4 separate regions of the Homo sapiens genome follow, and all the other regions are reported to be linked to region 4. The links are microRNA targets in miRTarBase. Many come from high-throughput screens and were not tested one by one. Region 4 holds a microRNA gene; each other region holds the end of a gene's coding sequence. Distances are between the middles of the regions.

The links. The annotated mature microRNA hsa-miR-7854-3p reads UGAGGUGACCGCAGAUGGGAA and lies in region 4 at 3,348-3,368, opposite strand. An mRNA with a match to its seed (bases 2 to 7 or 8) in the 3' UTR can be bound and repressed. Matches are read on the target gene's strand: a 7mer-m8 pairs with bases 2 to 8, a 7mer-A1 pairs with bases 2 to 7 and ends in A, and an 8mer does both.
Region 1: the mRNA of TEDDM1 is a reported target of hsa-miR-7854-3p. Seed matches in the 3' UTR shown: 7mer-A1 at 4,370-4,376.
Region 2: miRTarBase lists TERF2 as a target of hsa-miR-7854-3p. The part of its 3' UTR that is shown has no 7-base or 8-base seed match.
Region 3: miRTarBase lists MSX1 as a target of hsa-miR-7854-3p. Seed matches in the 3' UTR shown: 7mer-m8 at 3,658-3,664.

What each region holds. Positions count from the first base shown.
Region 1 is chr1:182,395,258-182,399,867 of GRCh38, forward strand. It overlaps TEDDM1 (transmembrane epididymal protein 1), which reads right to left. Exons shown (of 1, transcript NM_172000.4): 1 at 2,860-4,610. The coding sequence ends at 4,407. Among named protein-coding and RNA genes, the nearest start is that of TEDDM1, 3.1 kb to the right of the region's middle.
Region 2 is chr16:69,352,997-69,357,674 of GRCh38, reverse strand. It overlaps TERF2 (telomeric repeat binding factor 2), which reads left to right. Exons shown (of 10, transcript NM_005652.5): 9 at 114-157; 10 at 619-2,108. The coding sequence ends at 777. Among named protein-coding and RNA genes, the nearest start is that of TMED6, 3.6 kb to the right of the region's middle.
Region 3 is chr4:4,862,224-4,866,930 of GRCh38, reverse strand. MSX1 (msh homeobox 1) reads right to left here. Exons shown (of 2, transcript NM_002448.3): 2 at 2,995-4,230. The coding sequence ends at 3,788. Among named protein-coding and RNA genes, the nearest start is that of MSX1, 4.9 kb to the right of the region's middle. RefSeq lists enhancers at 1,515-2,432, 3,950-4,621.
Region 4 is chr16:81,532,603-81,537,309 of GRCh38, reverse strand. It overlaps MIR7854 (microRNA 7854), which reads right to left and starts at 3,408; the gene lies at 3,344-3,408. All of the region lies in intron 1 of CMIP (c-Maf inducing protein), which reads right to left. RefSeq lists enhancers at 4,029-4,528, 4,529-4,707.

The DNA.
Region 1 (4,610 bases), not on the chromosome of region 4:
GACACAAAATTTAGGGTAGGGCTCACATTGACCAAACCTTTTCTGTTTAGGAAATGGAGTTTTCCCTGTGTATGAATGATTTCAATAGGCATTCAGTGAGACCTTTAAATCATGTTAAAGAGATACAATTGAGACTCAGGGTTGGGGAACACCCTGGAAACCCAACCCAGAATTGTAAAATATTCTTTTAAAAATTATTATTATGTAATAAACCAACATCAGTTCTTTCCAAAAGAATGGACCATAGTAGAATCTTAAACCAAATCAAAATAATAATAATAAAAATGAAGAAGAAAAGAAATAGCTCTGGAAGTTGATAGCATTATTCTTAAACCATAATTTAGGGAAAAGCTGTAGTTGGCCAAGCTTTCAAATTTCACTTTATACAATTAGAGAAGGAAAGACTACATTTACATTATACTTCAGTTCAATAACTAGCACTAAGAATGGAGGAATTGTTCTTTACAGTTTTTGATTGTTTGATATTCTTCAGTTCAAGACAGGAAATTGGAAATTCACGTCTCAGCCATATCTGTAGCCTGATTTGAGTTTTGTAGGATGCGTGCTGAAATCAGTCAAATACAAGGAACACTTCATTTCCCCAACTGCGTGTTATGATGGAAGGTTTGGGTCTGTTTGAGCTCTACCCTGAATCATGTCTCTAGCAGGAAACTACGTGGAAAGTTGGGAAGAATCAAGTTCATCTTAGTTAACAACCTGGGGAAAATGTCCTATTGAGAAAATTAAAGCCATACAATTCTAGAATTAGATCTTCACATCATTCTATCTTAAAGATGAGGAACTGAGGCTTAGATAACTCATAGTAACTTGATGAAGTCATGTTTGGTTAGTATTTTAGAGCTTAATGAGCTTTCAAGGTGCTGTTCTTTTTCTGTTCCCTTTCCTTTAGTCGCTTTGGTCTGTGGGTGATCTGTTCCGGGGCCACCATCTCTAAAATACTGAAATTCCTACAGTCCTCACTGAGGGAGGTGCAGAGGACAGGGAGCAACCATTTACCTCTCAATCCTGGGTATGCTTACCCAGTGACTTCTGTATAGCAGACACTCAATATATATTTTCTTTGTGAATAACTAGATTAGCAGAAAAAAACAACACCATAGGAAAGATTCTCTTTGAAGGACTCTTTGGAGATCATTTTTCACATCTGATAATCTGCCTCCAGTTTCATTGTTTTGTGAATCGGGTTTTTTTAGATACATTTTGTCCTTTATTCTCAATTTACACTGTACAGATCGTTGTTCTGTAGATTGATTGGAACATTATTGAAGCTAATTAAAAAATTTAGAGAATTTAGCATTCTGATCAAAAAATTATTTAGATCAGAGTATGTGCTTTAGTTGGTACCATTCCCAAAGAAATCCTCAATGGGATCCACAGCCCTTCCTCCCTCCCCTCCCACCTCATTAGTTAATTTGGATCCCTGTTTATTTCACATTGACTCGCCAAATTTTAACAGGAAACAAACAGCCCTAGGGTATGTTTTCTGGATGCTTGGGCAATTCTTAGTCTGCTTCTGGATTTTTCCTGTCCGTTCTCCTCTTCCACTTCTTTTAAACCCGTTCTCCGGAGACTTGTTTACTGGGGTTGGAGAATCAGAAGCTTGGCCGGGGTGGTGTGAACCTAGTGCCCTCTTGTGGAATTTTGTGAGAATGACAAACTCCCCCAAAGCTTGAGTGCTTTGAGTTTTTTCTTGAGTAGCCTTTAGTGGGAGGACCTTTCTGTTACATCTTAAATCTAGTAAGTTAATAACATGCAGGCTTATTGCCTACACTGAATATTTGAAAGCTATTATGTTGGGGGGTATCACTTGATTACCAGAGGCTTATTGTTATAGAATTAAGCCTCATTACAGGAAACAGGCAGCTAAGTGTTTGTGCTTTTTCATCACCTCCCATTAATGTGTAAGAGAGGTAAAGAGAAAAGGAAGGCTCCCAAAGAAAAGTAATTGAAAAAAGGCTAGGAACCAAGAGTAAAGGGGAAATGGCAAACTTTAGAAGCCTTGGTCAAAAACAAGTCTTATCCCCAGCTCTTGCTTTGGATCTGAGCCCAGAAATGTAAGACCCAGCCAGAAGTTGAGAGTCTGCCAGATTCTCACCCCCCGGGGGAGATGGGGGTCAGGGTAGGGGACAGAAAGTGTTGCATAAACCCACTCCTAAGGGAGGTCTAGGGTGTTTACACTGTGCTGTTTGCTTTACCTGGGCTTTCTGGCTTGTTTTCTTTTCTTTCTTTCTTTCTTTCTTTCTTTCTTTCTTTCTTTCTTTCTTTCTTTCTTTCTTTCCTTCCTTCTTTTCTTTTTTCTTTTTTTTTTAAGACATAGTCTCACTCTGTCACCCAGGCTAGGGTGCAGTAGTGCAATCTCAGCTCACTGCAACCTCCGCCTCCCAGGTTCAAGTGATTCTCCTGCCTTAGCCTCCCAAGTATCTGGGATTATAGGTGTGGGCCACCACACCTAGCTAATTTTTGTATATTTAGTAGAGACAGGGTTTCACCATGTTGACCAAGCTGGTCTCGAACTCCTGACCTCAAGGGATCCGCCCGCCTTGGCCTCGCAAAGTGCTGGGATTATAGGCGTGAGCCACAGTGCCCAGCCGTCTTTCTTCTTTCTTTCACAATTTCATTTTTTTCATTTTGAGATAACTTGTTTCTCCATTGCCATTAGCAAAGTCACTGTGGCCCAGAGGACACAGTCACACTTGCGTCAGACACACCTGCACTTAAATTCCTGTGTTGCCTCATACCAACTGTGAGACTTGGGCAAGTCAACCTGCTGGAGTCTCAGTTTTCTAGAGACTCCTTATAGAAACATTTGTGAGGATTAAAAACAATAACAGAGTCAACTTCAGAAACAAGTTACTGGATTTTATTATACCCCAAAACAAGGAAGAGAGTGGGTGCATTACTAAGGCAGTGACTCAGTGTTCAGGACTGTTGTTGTCACCCAGAGAGATTCACAAAACCTCCAACCTGTCCAGCAATACATTTAGAAGAAACAGGATTAGGGAAGACTCTGGAAGCAAAGAAGGCTTTATTAAACATAACCATGATCCATAGCTGGAGTATACATAGGAAATTTGGTAACTTGGATAAGGCAAAGTCTTTTCCCTTTAGGAGCCTGTACTTTAGTGGGTGAGGAAGAACCTTCTGAAAGAAAATGATTTCAGCAGCAGTATAAAAGAAAGTGGGTCACCTGTATGAGCAAACTAACAAAGCAGATTTAATGTAAGTGCCCAAGAGTTCCAAAACAAGGGAATCAGTAAGAGTTCTGGAGAAGGCCACCTTGGGGATACTTGGTGCGGTGTGGGGGTGGATGTAGGTTTATTCTGGGAATCGAATAACATGGTAAATATGTGACTGTAGGATGACTGGCTGTGATTTGCAAGGAAAAGAAATTTGCAAAGACCCAAGAATGGTATCTGCTAAATTGCATGTGCAAGGGTGGTCATGGTGAAAAGGAAAGTTTGGGCTAGAATAAGAGTAATAAAATGAGAAGTCAGGGAAGTACCAAGCATTTGAATGCTATAAAAATGCTATAGCAGTTGAATTCTATACAAATTTAAATTATGGAAATTTGAAATGTTATTAAGTATTTAAAAAGTCTCACTTTATATGTAAAGTTTGAAATGAAGCCAATTCTTGAAAGCTGCGGAGAGAGAAGGAGGCAAAGCGAGCATAATTTCAGCCTGTATGAATTAATTATAAATTCTATCATGCTATTTCCACATGGTGGCACCACTTTGGTGAGCACGTAAAGTACCCACTTTTCTTTATCAAGATGAGATTTGAATGGGTCCAGTTTTGAGTTGTGAGAAGTCTTTATTCCCTCAGGTAAAAGGCAATCCCTTGTGCCTGATGACGCTAATGACAGCATAACTGCTAGACTCTGTTCTCCTCCCTTCACAGCTCTTCCTTTTGTTGCATTCTCTTCCCCCAGTGGCTTTTCTTGCACACTAAGAAGAAGTGTTCTCCTCGTCCTTTTCCCTCCCTCCCGCAAATCCCATCAGCGTCTCTTTCTCAATCCCTCTCCCCTTATCTTCTCAGTAATTAGAGGCTCAGGGACAGAAAATGCACCAGCACGGGCATGGTGGCAGGCTCCTGTAATTGCAGCTACTCGGGAGGCTGAGGCAGGAGAATCGCTTGAACTCGGGAGGCGGAGGTTGCACTGAGCTGAGATTGTGCCATTGCACTCCAGGCTGGGCAACAGAGCGAGACTCTGTCTCAAAAAAAAAAAAAAAGAAAAGAGAAGAAAAGAAAATGAACCAGCAGACGGGACCAACTGCTAGCCTTCAAGGCCATTACCTTTACCAAGGAGGGTACCATGCTCGTGGCTGAGGAGCCAACAGGAGGAAGATGAGGTGGACGATGTGCCAGCCACTGTAGGCCCTGTCTCAGGGGGAGCTCTTTGGAAGGAGGAGAGCCTGGTCCTCTTTCTCTGACTGCTCCACTTCCTGTAGCAACTTGTAGAGGGGTCCTGGAGTGCTTGCATAATATGGAGCTTCTTTGGGCCCAGTCAGCTTCAAGCTGGGTCTGAAACAATGATACCAAAAGGAAGAGAAGCCATAGATTCCCAACAGGAATGAGGCATTGATCAT
Region 2 (4,678 bases), 12 Mb from region 4:
ATGCTTGTGAAATTTGAAGAAGTTTTCCCTTTGGGGACATTCCATGTCTTTTTCTTGTGGTTTGTGCAGAGAAAGGTGAACTCTGAAATGAGTCTACTTTTAATGTTTTCCAGCAGCACCAGATGAAGACAGTACAACCAATATAACAAAAAAGCAGGTAATTTAAAATTCTCTTTTCTGTTACTGGTTATGTGGGTAGAGCAGAGGTAAAATACGCGCCCTGTCTCACAGGTATAGACTGGTTATGTACCCAGTAAAAACCTTTTTTTGAGATTTTCAGATAATCCAAACTAAGTTAAAGTAATAATTATCTTCTGGAAGAAAAGACTAGGAAAACAGATGACACATTTTCCGGAACATGAATGATGTAGATATGTTTGCAGTTTGGAATGCAGAAGTGATTGTTACTTGAGGATCAAATGGCAGGACATCAAGAATTCCTGTGTCCAGATCCACAGTGCTCATATCTTGTCCATTCCATGTTTAAAAACATAAGCTGTGATTTCAGGTTCAGATGATTCTCCTGGGATTCTTGAGTTTACCTTATCACTACATTGGAGAAAATGTAAGTAAGTGGAGAGGAAAGGTGGTAATAAATCTTTTGGTTTTCTTTTGCAGAAGTGGACTGTAGAAGAAAGCGAGTGGGTCAAGGCTGGAGTGCAGAAATATGGGGAAGGAAACTGGGCTGCCATTTCTAAAAATTACCCATTTGTTAACCGAACAGCTGTGATGATTAAGGATCGCTGGCGGACCATGAAAAGACTTGGCATGAACTGAAACAGGCTTTCATTTCCACAGAATTCACAGGAGCATGGTTCCTAATAATAGCCCCTGATAGTCTGCTCTTTCTTTCTTTTTCTTTTTTTTTTTTTTTTGAGACAGAGTCTCGCTCTGTCACCCAGGCTGGAGTGCAGTGGCGTGATCTCGGCTCACTGCGACCTCCGTCTCCCGGGCTCACGCCATTCTCCTGCCTCAGCCTCCCGAGTAGCTGGGACTACAGGCGCCCGCCATCACGCCCGGCTAATGTTTTGTATTTTTAGTAGAGACGGGGTTTCACCGTGTTAGCCAGGATGGTCTCGATCTCCTGACCTCGTGATCCACCCAACTCGGCCTCCCAAAGTGCTGGGATTACAGGCATGAGCCACCGCGCCTGGCATCTGCTGTTTCTTTCAGAAGCTGGGCTGGGATGAGAATTTTGGGCAACCTCCTTCGACGTGGGGGAGGTCCCATTTCCACTTCATCACTGTTGGAGATCATGGAGCTAAGAAGCAGAGCCAAGTCCACCCATGTCCTTGGCAGAGATGACAGGCACACAGCTTGTGCAGTGCCAGAATATCATTAGCGTTTCCCTTCTTTAGTGGTTTGCTTAAATTTAAATCCCTGGTAATCTGTAGAACCTTCTCCTAGGAAATGGTGAAGTCTATTAGGAGCCACTTGTGACTCCATGACCTGTTAAAACCAGCAATGTGAGTATTATTTGGAGTAAATTTGTTCCACGTCAAGTTCTGGCCTTCTGATGCAAATGCAAAGGAACTTAGTCTGTTATGAACCCAGGTTGATGACAGACCAGTCCTTGTGGAATAAGATTCCCTTTAAAAACTCTTTAGCCAGTCGTGACATCAACCCTAGACCTGTCTGCCTTGGCATTTGCTGTCAACATCTGCTGGGCTATGTAGGCAGGTTAATCCTCCACTTCTCATGTGGTTGAACCAGTGTGTTTTTTGGTAAAATGGTGATTGTAGATAAGATTAGTTCCCTGATCCCCTGCCCCCTGTCCCCTGCCTCTTTTCCCAATTCCCTTCCTTATGCTGGACTTTTAAAGCTTAAAAAAAATCCGATTGAATATAAATGCCTAATTTCATTCTTTGTGAAATGGTTGCTTCCTCCTGATTCCCTAATTGTGCTGTGTTCGTGTCTTGCACTGGAATTCAACATTCCCTTCTCCTTTTGTACTGTGTTGTGCTTGCTGTCTCTCCCGGACACCCTTAAAGACTGTCTTTTTAGCAAAAAATTTCAGTAAAGTGTTTTCTGTAATCTTTTTTTAAAAGGTGAGAACTAATTATTGTCCATACTTGTAGCATTCTTCATTAAAGTCTTGCTTCTCTCAACTGTAAGTAGCTGTTTAATTGCAGCACAGCATGTATCCACAGAGGGAGGTAGCAAAATGTTAAACTTTGCTGAACTATTTTGATCAAGAAGCTGATGTCAGACTTTATTGAATGTTTTAATCCTTGGAAGCTATGTCAAACAGATGATATGGAAGTTTCCTCTTAACCTTTCAGTTTCCTCATATATCATTTCTGGGGACAAAAGAATTCCCCCTTTCTCACTTCTGAGTGAGTGAAAGGCAAGGCTTAAAGAAATGCTAAAGTTTTAAAATTCATCCATTAGGCCAGGCATGGTGGCTAATGCCTGTAATCCCAGCACTCTGGGAGGCCGAGGCAGGAGGATCACTTGAGGTCAGGAGTTCGAGACCAGCGCGGCCAACATAGTAAAACCCTATGTACTAAAAATACAAAAATTAGCTGGGCGTGGTGGCGGGTGCCTGTAATCCCAGCTATTCAGGAGGCTGAGGCACAAGAATCGCTTGAACTCGGGAGATGGAGGTTGCAACGAGCCAAGATCATGCCACTGCACTCCAGCCTGGGCAACAAAGCGAGACTCTATCTCAAAACAAAACAAAACTGGCTGGGAGCCATGGCTCACCCCTGTAATCCCAGCACTTTGCGAGGCCAAGAAGGGTAGGATCACCTGAGGTCAGGAGTTCAAGACCAGCCTGGCCAACATGGTGAAACCCCATCTCTACTAAAAATACAAAAACTTAGCCAGCCATGGTGGCAGGCGCCTGTAATCCCGACCTCTCGGGAGGCTGAGGCAGGAGAATTGCTTGAACTTGGGAGGCGGAGGTTGTGATGAGCGGAGATGGTGCCATTGCACTCCAGCCTGGGCAAAAAGAGCAAAACTCCTTCTCAAAAAAAAAAAAAAAAAGTTTAAAATTAAAAATTTTGAAAAATACAAAATTAGCCAGGCATGGTGGCAGGCGCCTGTAGTCCCAGCTACTCGGAAGGCTGAGGCAGGAGAATCGCTTGAACCGGGGAGGTGGCGGTTGCAATAAACCGAGATCGCACCACTGCACTCCAGCCTGGGTGATAGAGTGAGACTCCATCTCAAAAAAAAAAAAAATTCATCCATTAGTTACAAGTTGGAAACTTCATACAGCTTTATTACCTATTAACTGCATTTTGGGGTTTAGTACCTATTGTTCTTCTATCAACCAACCCCAACTGAAACCACAGGGAGAAGTTGAGAACTTGAGCTCCTTTCAGGCTAGCCGCCTTCTGCCTGCAGCTGGTTTGGTCTCCCTCTGAACCGGATTAGAATCCAGAAGCTTTTCTCCCCTTAACTCTCATGTGAGTCAATGGTGCTCTCCAGGTAGAGGAGTGAAACTGATGCATTTAGGGAAACAAAATATCCTAATCAGTGTTTCTTTTTATTTATTTATTTATTTATTTATTTATTTATTTATTTATTTATGAAATGGAGTCTCACTCTGTCACCCAGGCTGGAGTGCAGTGGTGCTATCTCAGCTCACTGCAAGCTCTGCCTCTGGGTTCACACCATTCTCCTGCCTCAGCCTCCTGAGTAGCTGGGACTACAGGCACCCGCCACCACACCTGGCTAATTTTTTGTATTTTTCGTAGAGATGGGGTTTCACCGTGTTAGCCAGGATGGTCTCGATCTCCTGACCTCGTGATCCGCCCACCTCAGCCTCCCAAAGTGCTGGGATTACAGGCGTGAGCCACCACACCCGGCATCAGTGTTTCTTAAACTTGAGAATGCCTATGTTCATTAATATTTTTTCACATAATTCAGTGTTGTTTTTATTATAGTTATTGAAATGTGTGCAAAGATAAAACTATGCTTACAGCTTCTGTAGAACTATAAAACTTACTATGAACTGACGATTGTTTCGCCGAAACCAAGTCACTGCTTATGGCATGACCAGTGCTAGGACTGCGACGGTGGTGGGACTCGGGTGGGGGATGCCTGTGCCACGTGTGCTGATAGAAGTTCCCAGACTCTTCTGTCACTTGAGCAAGACTGCCATAGAGCCACTGTGCTCCCAGAGTGCTGTGCTGTCATTTGGCCTTTGCTAGAACTGAACCCCATGTATAGAGTCTGTTTTCTGCCTACTTAGCTTGTGACACTTTGAGTCAATGCAAATAATTGCTGGAAGGTGTTAATGCTGTTTTGTTTTTTGTTTTTTAAGATTATGACTAAGGCTAGGCACGGTGGCTCACACCTGTAATCCTAGCACTTCAGGAGGCCAAAGCATGGGGATCACTTGAGCCCAGGAGTTTGAGACCAGCCTAGGCAACATGGCAAAACCTCATCTCTACAAACAATACAAAAATCAGCCAGGTGTGGTGGTGCACTCCTGTGGGTCCAGCTACTTGGGAGGCTGAGGTGGGAGGATCGTTTGAGCCCAAGGGGGTGAGGCTGCAGTGAGCTATGTTTGTGCCACTGCACTCCAGCCTGGAAGACAGAGTGATACCATCTCAAGGAAGCAAAAAAAAAAAAAAAAAAAAAAGATTAGGACTGAAAAATGGTTAGGCAGTGTCAGAACTCAGAGACTGACAGCTTGAGAATGAGAAACACTGTCCTGCCTGGTGGTTAA
Region 3 (4,707 bases), not on the chromosome of region 4:
TTTGGTCTTGACTGCGTGGTCAGAAGCTGAATTTGCAAAATGAGGCTTCCGTCTCCTCCCCAACAAAACGAAAACGCTTTCACAGCGTGCAGGGCCGGTGAGACGCCCCTATCATTCCTCAAGGGACAGTGCCTGTTCGTGGTTAGAGCGCAAGGAGTTAAATTCAGAACTAGTTCCCGGATTCTGCGCTCCGTTTTCCAGCGCGACGCGCACTTCGCAGGAGAGCTGCTCAGGCACCAGGTGACCCTCAACCAGATGGAGATGGGCAATGCGGGAAAAACCGGATCCTCGAGTGGAATCCGTGTTGGAATTCCTGCTATGTCCTTCATTAACTGTGTAACCTTGGGAAAACCATGTCACCTCTCTGAGCTGCAGTCCTTTGCGCTATAAAAATCTCCTAGGTGTGTTGGGAGTCAGCGTGAGCGGGAACTCCCGGCACACAGTAGGCTGTGAGTGCAGACTGCTCCATCACTACCTCCCAGCGCGGAAGGTGGCCGACCTCTCCGCCTGGTAGATCCCATGTTTCTTGCCAGAGAAGGAAATTGGTCCGTAAAGGAACAGACCCAGGAAACCCCTGCCCACTCCGCCCTCGGTTGATAAACCAGGGAACACAGTTCGAAGGACTGGGATGGACGAGAAGCAGTGCCGGAAGCGCAGCCGCGATTTCCGGCCGGACCCGGCTGACTGTGGCTCTGGGTGTTCTCCCCACACCAGCGTGCCGCTCCGATCTAGCAAACAATTATCGAGCACCTTCTGTGTGCACACCCTGTTCAGAGAGGGAATGCGGAAACAAAAGGGGGGCAAAGAATGGGCTAGACGGACAGAAACAAAAATGGGGAGATTCGGAGGCCCAGAAGTGGAAGGAAGCCCCTAGCCAAGGCCAGCAGCCAGAGGCGGAGGCGCGCGCGGGCCGGGGTCCCAGGGAGGCCGGGCCCTCGCACCCGGGCTGCGGCGCAGGGAGGGGGCGGGGAGGCGCGCCCGCCTCGCCTGCAGCTACCGCCTCGCTGGAGCCGCGACGCGTCTGCAGAGGGTGAGCCGTTGCTCATTACCGCAATTATGTTGCTCTAAATTTGCCTCTACCCTAAATTGCCAAACTCCAAGGAGCCAGGAGGTCCTGGAGCCGGGGCCGGGGGAGACACCCGATCCTGCCCTGCCATTTCCCTATCACGAACGCGCGGAAAAAAACTTCAGTGCTGCGGGCGCGCAGTAAGCCAAGAAAAGTCAGATGCACCCGGTATTCCCTGGGTGCCCTCCCGCGCGGGGGCTTGTCGACACTTCCCCCAAATCCTGGGGTGTAGGGGGAAGAGTCCAAGGCCCATTTCACAGACGAGAAAAAGGCGGTGCAGAGAGATGATATGATCTTTTATAGTAAGTGGCGGGCTTGATCCACACTGAACCACATTGGCTCTCTGACTCCAAGTTCAATACTAACCCCACGACGAGGACGTCTCTAGCGTGTTCCAGAAAAGAACCCAGATTTGCCAGAGCCGGGCGTCCTGCGCGCCGTCATTCGAGGGTTACTTAATTTATAGAGGAAAGAAAAAAGAAAAAAAACGCGGCGAGGCACTTCAGCCCTAAAGCACCTTTAGAGAGCTGCGTGGTGTGGGAGTCTGAGACCTTGTTATGCATAGCTCCCCTTTGGGGGGCGAAAAGGCCCAGACCCGGGCTCTGGTGCTTTTCTAGAAGTTCCCAGGCCGAGGGCAACAGCTCCGGGGCTCCCCAGGAGCGAAACTGCCCTCCACAGCAAGCTTTTCTTCTTAAGGAGCGGGGTTGTAACAAGTTCATACTGCAGCTCCAGCCAGGGAAGACAGAACCTTTGCCCGAGCTGCAGAGGCTGGAGGATCCGAAGCCCAGGACGCCCCGGAATGTGCCCGGCGCCCGTGCAGAACCTGCCCAGGGCGCGTTCCCGCAACCCTGGGCTCGCTGGGAATTCCTAGACCGACCTAAGGGTCCTGGGGCTAGAAACCGCGCGCTGCCCTTGGGGCTCTGTTTTTAACGTCTCTATCTGTGAAGCTGTTCACCCCTGTTCAAGTCCAACGCCAGGTACCCAGGTTTCGAACCATCTTTAGTCTACTGACCTCCGGCTTAACGGCTTACTGCAGACTGTCCGGCGCTATCCTGCGTGGAATTTGGAGGAGCGGGTCACCGCGGGACAGAGGCTGAAGGAGGAGAGGGATGCGCAGGTCTGCCGCCGCCCGAACACGAAAGACAACAGAGCGGTGCCTGGAGCTTAATAGGCTTTATTTAATCAGGGGGTAATTTTCTGCATTCGGCGTCCTTGCAGAATTCCCCGGAAAGCTAAACTTGGCGCGTGTGCAAATATATTCTCCTGGAAGACTGATCTTAAGAAAAACCGAGTTTGTGAGGGTTTGGAAACAGGGCTCCTGCAGAGGACTTTCCAGGCGAGAGTGGAAGGTGGCCCTGGGTTTTCTGTAAACTTTGTTAGGTTGTGTTGTGTTTTTAGCGGCCAGAATAGGGGGTGAGAAGGTTCTTATATTCTGGCAGCTCAAAATTAGTTCCACAAACCGCGTCTACAGTGGGGGTAATTTAGAGAGGCAACGCAATCGCTTCCATCCCCCACCTGGCCTCCCGTGGGAAAAACAGATTTGCGGAGGTGGGAATTGTCTGGATTAGCTGTCCACACTCATCAAACCATTTGGGCGATTTGCTTTGTTTTCATAGACAGGTTAAAAGGAGAGAAAGAAAGCAAGAGTTGGTTATAGGTTGCCCGAGTAAGTGTCGATTTCAGCTTAAAGTGAATTGGAAAATTGAGCCTAATTATCCTAGGTAATTACTTCAACTCTCCACTTGACTTTCCTAATGCAGATCTGTCGTGGGTGTTCAAAAAGACACCCCCCTCTATCCCTGCATACCCTGTTATCACCTTTCAAAGTTGCTGTCGTAAAAGTACCGTCAAACTGAAAAGCAACTGTACACATAAAGAGATAGCAAGAAGCAAAATTAAAATAAAAGACTCAATCAGTAAAGAGATAATTTTTGTAGCTTAAAATTAATTTATTTAACAAATATAGCTATAATATAAATGATAATAAAATTTCAAATATACAGTATATTACATAGTACACACAATCCCTTCCAAAGGGATGTTTGAGAGCCACACAAATGTACTGTTAAATAGAAAGAGTTTTTTTTTTTTTTTAATTTTACAATTGTGTTTCTGGTACTGGTAAGAGAGAGGTCCCTTCAACCTACCTTTGCAACACATCTGTGTTTTCCCTGCCCCCCAGAGCAAATGTTTTGTTGTTGAACTTGTCTTAAATTTTCCAATGGAAGAAGCTAGGATTCATCTTCCTGGCTGGCTAGTCTTTTTTTTCTCTTTTCTTTTTTTTTTTTTTTTTTTTTTTTTTTTTTTTTTTTGAGATTGTTCTCATTTCCAAAATCGTCAGACACCGATTTCTCTGCGCTTTTCTTGCCTGGTGTCAGGACAGGGAAAAGCTATGCAGGAGACATGGCCTCTAGCTCTGTTCAACTGTCAATTCTGCTGGGGACCTTAGATAAATCTGTTAACCTCTCTGCCCTCAGTTTCCCCATCTTTAACTCGAGAGTGTAGATCTAAATGCTAGAAGAGTACTAAGGGACTCTTCCAGCCACTTTTTGGCAGGGATCAGACTTCGGAGAGTGAACTCAGGGAGCAAAGAGGTGAAACTGGAGCAGTGTGAGGGTTAAAGGGAAGGCGGCTGGCGGTGCCGAGCAGGGGAGCACGTCGGGGGTACAGCACCAGGGCTGGAGGAATCGGCTGGCCCACAGGTGGGCGACCTGGGACCCTCTATGTCAGGTGGTACATGCTGTAGCCCACATGGGCCGTGTAGAGTCCCACGGGCGCCACAGGCAGCGCGGCGCGCTGGAAGGGGCCAGAGGCACCGTAGAGCGAGGCACCCGCCGCGGCCGCTACAGCTGCGGGGCCGCCGAGAGGGAAGGAGAGGCCGAAGGCAGCCGGTGGCAGCATGGGCTTGGCGGCCATCTTCAGCTTCTCCAGCTCTGCCTCTTGTAGTCTCTTTGCCTTGGCGCGGCGGTTCTGGAACCATATCTTCACCTGCGTCTCAGTGAGGCTGAGCGAGCTGGAGAACTCCGCGCGCTCGGCGATGGACAGGTACTGCTTCTGGCGGAACTTGCGCTCCAGCGCCAGCAGCTGCGCGGTGGTGAAGGGCGTCCGCGGCTTACGGTTCGTCTTGTGTTTGCGGAGGGTGCAGGCTGGGGGGCTCAGCCGCCCTGAGGGCCGAAAGAAAAAAAAAGCAAGGGGTTAAGAGAGAAGCATTGGAGCATGATCAGCCCAAGAAGTAGTAATAATAGCCAAACAATACCAGATATTGAGTGCCGCCAAGTGCCTCGGTGCCGGGCATCGCGCAAGGCACTTGAAATATATTTTCTCCAATTCCCATTGCAACCCCGCAGGGGAGAAGTTCCTGTCTACTTTTTGCAAATGAAGAAACTAAGATTCCAGGAGAAAAATACCCACGTTGAAGGCTCGATGTCCACATCTTAGGCCTAAACAGCTGGGAAGATGTGAAATCACCTTTGTGCTGCCCGGCGGCTTAGGAAGGCCTTCATGGCGGGCCTCCTCCCAGGGCCATCCAGAGGAAAGGTGGATGTTAATACAGTTGACGAACATGCAGAAAGAGGCCCTGCGCCCAGCCCAAGGGCACATTTAGTTTTACGCGTTGGCCAAACATTTATCAGTGCCCACGG
Region 4 (4,707 bases):
GCCCACCTCGGCCTCCCAAAGTGCCGGCATTACAGGTGTGAGCCACCGCCCCCAGCCTATATGGGGCGTTTCTATCCAACTTTATTTCTCAGGATGCCCCGACACTCCAGGCCAAGGCAGGCTCACACGTGAACATTGTGACGGCCAGGACGGTGAGCAGGGGGGACCCTGCTCTGAGTCTGTAGCCCAGTTCTGCCATGACTGGTCCTGAAGTTTCCAGCAACTTACTCTTAAAGTCACACTAATATGTCATGGGAAAAATGCCAGACAAAATCATACATGCCAAACAACTGCACAGATGTGGAGTTCACAAGCGGGCAAAACCATTAGACACTGATACAAGCCAGGAGAGCAGTTACCCCTGGGGAGAGCAACGGCTGGCGGGAGGTGCAGGGCAGGGGGTGGGGTACTGCTCAGTATGTTGTCTCTTGATTTGGGCGCTGGTTACACGTGCGTGCTGAGTTGGCAAAAATTCACTGAGCTGTACGTGTGCATGCTTCCGGATGTATGTGACGCACGTATGTTTCTATAACAACATTTTACTGGAAAAAAAAAAGACAAGCAGTGCCTCAGTTTCCTCATCTGAAAAATGAGAGGTATTAACACCTACCACAAAGGCTGGTGCTGTTGTCCCTCGGCCTCCTGCTCTAAATAAGTTCTACCCACTTCATCAAAGGTCATGAACCAGGTGTCCACCTGAGGTAGCCAACCCTAATTCTGCATTTATAGAAAGAAGGTTCCGGAGACGGGTTGTGCTACAATGTGAATATACTTAACACTATTGATCTGCACACTTAAAAATGGTTAGGACAGGGCATTATGTTCTGTGTATCTTATCACCATTTTTTTAAAAAGATGAACTATAAGAGAATATTCTTATCCTGACGATCAATTTATAATGCCCCCGAGTTAATGACAGGTGAGAGAGGTACCGAATAGCAAGCACACAGGCCACACTGGGTCCATCCAGGGCACACCCTCCCTGCATGGCGCAAGGTAAGATGAAGACTTCCAATTGCCACAGCAAGGCAAGGAGCACTCCCAAGTACCTTTGGTCATCCTCACAACAAGTTCCAGGTCACCCTCAGCAAGCTGGAAGCCTTCACACCAAACAAGCCTCTCCTCGTGAAATTTTAATAATTAACACTTACCTGATTTCAAAGGTTTTACAGGGAAATTAATCTTCATACTGGCTGGTTATGGCTGCTCTGCAAAGCCAGGGGTCGGGGGATGCTTCGGGTCCCTGCTTATGAGTTTACACTGCAAACAGGGATCACATCAGCCCACAGCACACAGCAGACAAGAGGTCCCTTGTCACCGAGGTTCCCTGGGCCCTCAGGTGACACGACTCTCTCTGGGAGGAGATCCAAGATGCTCTCGCCTTGAAGTCAGCGTGGACAATTTTCTCAAAAACCTGGAACATGTAAACTGACCTGGAGTCCTAGGAGCTTGTGGGAATGCTCAAGTGCAAAACTTTCTATCACTGTAACAGCTTGTCAGCCAGTTCAGAGTCTGGGGTGACCTCGGTAATTTATGGTGGGAGGGGAAGGTGGGTAACAGGGTCCAACATCTGTAAACGAGTGTCTGAACACTCAAGGGCAACTGATCACCAAACTGACTGATGCTTCAAATGAGGACGTACCTTACAAAAAGTCAACATCAATGGAAATAATAATAATTGTATTATTACTAATAGATTAAGGGCTTTTTCTATGCCAGGCACAGTACTACAAAATTCACGTGTCTGATCTCATTCTTGCTAGTAGCTTCATGCAGCTTTTTCTGACTAGCTCCACTTAGAGAAAGAACGTACAACAGCTGTTTAAAAAAAAAAAAAAAAAAAGCATTCCAGTGCTATACCATGAGCAGAAGTGACAGGAAAGAAGCACAGGGAAGCATCATGAGACACAGCCCACGAGAAGGTTAAATACACTGGAATTTTATGCATGTGAGATTCTCAGACAGCATTTGGCTGTGTGACCTTGGGCAGGTTGCTTGACCTCTCTGGTGCCTCAGTTCCTTCATCTTTAAAAGGAGAGGGCTCAATTTTAAAAAAATTATGGGCCACGTGGTGGCTCACACCTGTAATGCCAGCACTTTGGGAGGTTGAGGCAGGCAGATCACTAGGTCAGGAGATCGAGACCATCCTGGCTAACACAGTGAAACCCCGTCTCTACTAAAAGTACAAAAAATTAGCTGGGCATGGTGGCAGGTGCCTGGAGTCCCAGCTACTCAGGAGGCTGAGGCAGGAGAATGGCATGAACCCGGGAGGCAGAGCTTAGAGTGAGCCGAGATCACGCCTCTGCACTCCAGCCTGGGAGACAGAGCAAGACTCCGTCTCAAAAAACAAACAAACAAAACACTATGAAGCTGGAATAAAACAGCACAGTGGCAGAGCAAGGACAGTATATCAGTGGTAACTAACAGAAAGCCTAAAAGGAAACTTAGCACATATTTGAAAAATTTAGTATCTGATAATAGCAATATTTTAAAGCAATGGGAAAAGGGCACACTATTGAGTGAATGATAACAGACAATCCATTAACTATTTGGAGGGAAGGAATAGCATTATTCCCTGCCTCACACCTTATACCAAAAATTTATCCTGGGTGTAGGTGCTTAGTTCTAGGTTAATTTTACAGTTCTATAGTTTTGTTTTTTTTTTTATGGGGAATGTTTGCTCAATCTTAAAATTTGGAAGAACTCTCTAAGCCACGAAGACACTAATTAAGAAGTCACTAATTAAGACACTCAACTCTGACCACAGAAAAATATATAACTTCTATATATCAATAAATACCTCAAACAAAATCAAGAGACTAGAAAAACAAAAAAAGTTGGAGAGTAATAACTGCTACATAAATGATTTGAAAAAGGATGAACAGTTTTCTATATTTCAAAAGAAACCCTTACAATCTTTTTTTAAAGACACATGCCATAATTGAAAATAAAACACACAAAGAATATAAACAACTTGCGGAGCAAATGCAAACAGTCAACAAACCCATAAAATGAGGGCAGTGAATGAGGTTTAATGGAACAAATCCTGACTGAGGGCCACTGGGCAACATTCACAATTTTAAAGAGCTCAGAGTCCACTGCTATTGGGTATGTGTGGCCTTGCTGTGTGGTCAAAAGGGTGCATTCCTGAAAGTCCTGGCTTTGAAACGCAGCCTGGCCACAGGCTGCCCGGGTGCAGGAACCAGTGTGGCCCAGCTCCAGCGTGGAGATGCTCTGACCCACAGGCAGCCGTGGTAGCCGTGAGCAGTAGCTCTCACGGGGCCCTCTCCTGCCCTGCCTGGAACCAGATGGTGGAGAGAAGAAAATGCTCATCTCTGCGCCCTTCCTTCCCATCTGCGGTCACCTCAGCTGCCCAGAAGATGCTCAAGGTGATGGAGATGGAAGGAAAGGGCAGGAGAGGTTCACTGCCTCCTTCTGACTAGTGTTCCCTGCGGCCCTGCATGGACTCCACCCCGGTCATGCTCTCAGATCTGCTAGTGCAGCCCTCTGATTGTAAAAATAAAGCACATAGGCCAGGCGCGGTGGCTCATGCCTGTAATCCCAGCACTTAGGGAGGCAGAGGCAGGTGGACTGCCTGAGCTCAGGAGTTTGTGACCAGCCTGGGCAACACGGTGAAACCCTGTCTCTACTAAAATACAAAAAATTAGCTGGGCATGGCGGCACGTGCATATAGTCCCAGCTACTCTGGAGGCTGAGACAGGAGAACTGCTTGAACCCGGGAGACGGAGGCTGCAGTGAGCCAAGATCACACCACTGAATGCCAGCCTGGGTGACAAAAAGAGACTCCGTCTCAAAAAAATAAAAATAAAAATAAAAACAATAAAGCACATAATGACAATAATATAAAAAATCATGCACATAACCTTAGCTACCATGTACTGAGTGGCTACCATGTACTTAACAGGCAAACTTTATTCCAATGGACAAAGTGAGTGCTGCAAAGTTTGACTGACTGATGATTCATTCATTCGTTCACTCACTCAAAACTATGTACTGAGCATCTAGCAGGTGCCAGGCCCTGTTCTAAATGCTGGGGATACAGTCATGGGGAAAAAACAGGCAAACCCCTGCCTTTCTAGTGGGATGGAATAATAAACAAAATAAGTAAGAAACGCGTGGTCTGTCAGATGATAACATATGCTCAGGAGAAAAAAACGTAAGTCAGGGAACGAGAAATAAAAAATTGTGGGAGTGGGTGCCAACTTTTTGGATGGATGGAATGATCAAGGACAGCCCAAGGAGGTGACTTCTGACAGGAGACAGGAGGGAAGCGAGGGAGCGTGTGGTGTGGGTGTTTAGACAACAGGCATCCCAGGCAGAGGAAGCAGTCAGGGCAAAGGCCTCGAGGCACAGCAGGCTTGGCGTGTCCAAGGAGGCAGCCCAGATCACACCATCAGTAAGGGAGGGAGGCTTTCACTTGCCATGCTGTCTGGGCAGAGAGGCGCAGGAGGCAACACGGTGTGTCCAAGGTCACACAGTTAATCATTGAGAGATCAGCCAAGCATGGCACACTGGAGTCAGGGCACAGAGCTGCATCCCAGGGAGTCACACCCCTCCACATCCCAACACTCTGATGTCACACCTCCACCTTCCTTGGAGGCTCCTGGAGGAAAGGCCCAGGTGACAGCTCTTCCCTGGCACCAGGTGGGTCTCCTGGCTTCGCCTCCCGCTGCCTCGGGACCTGGG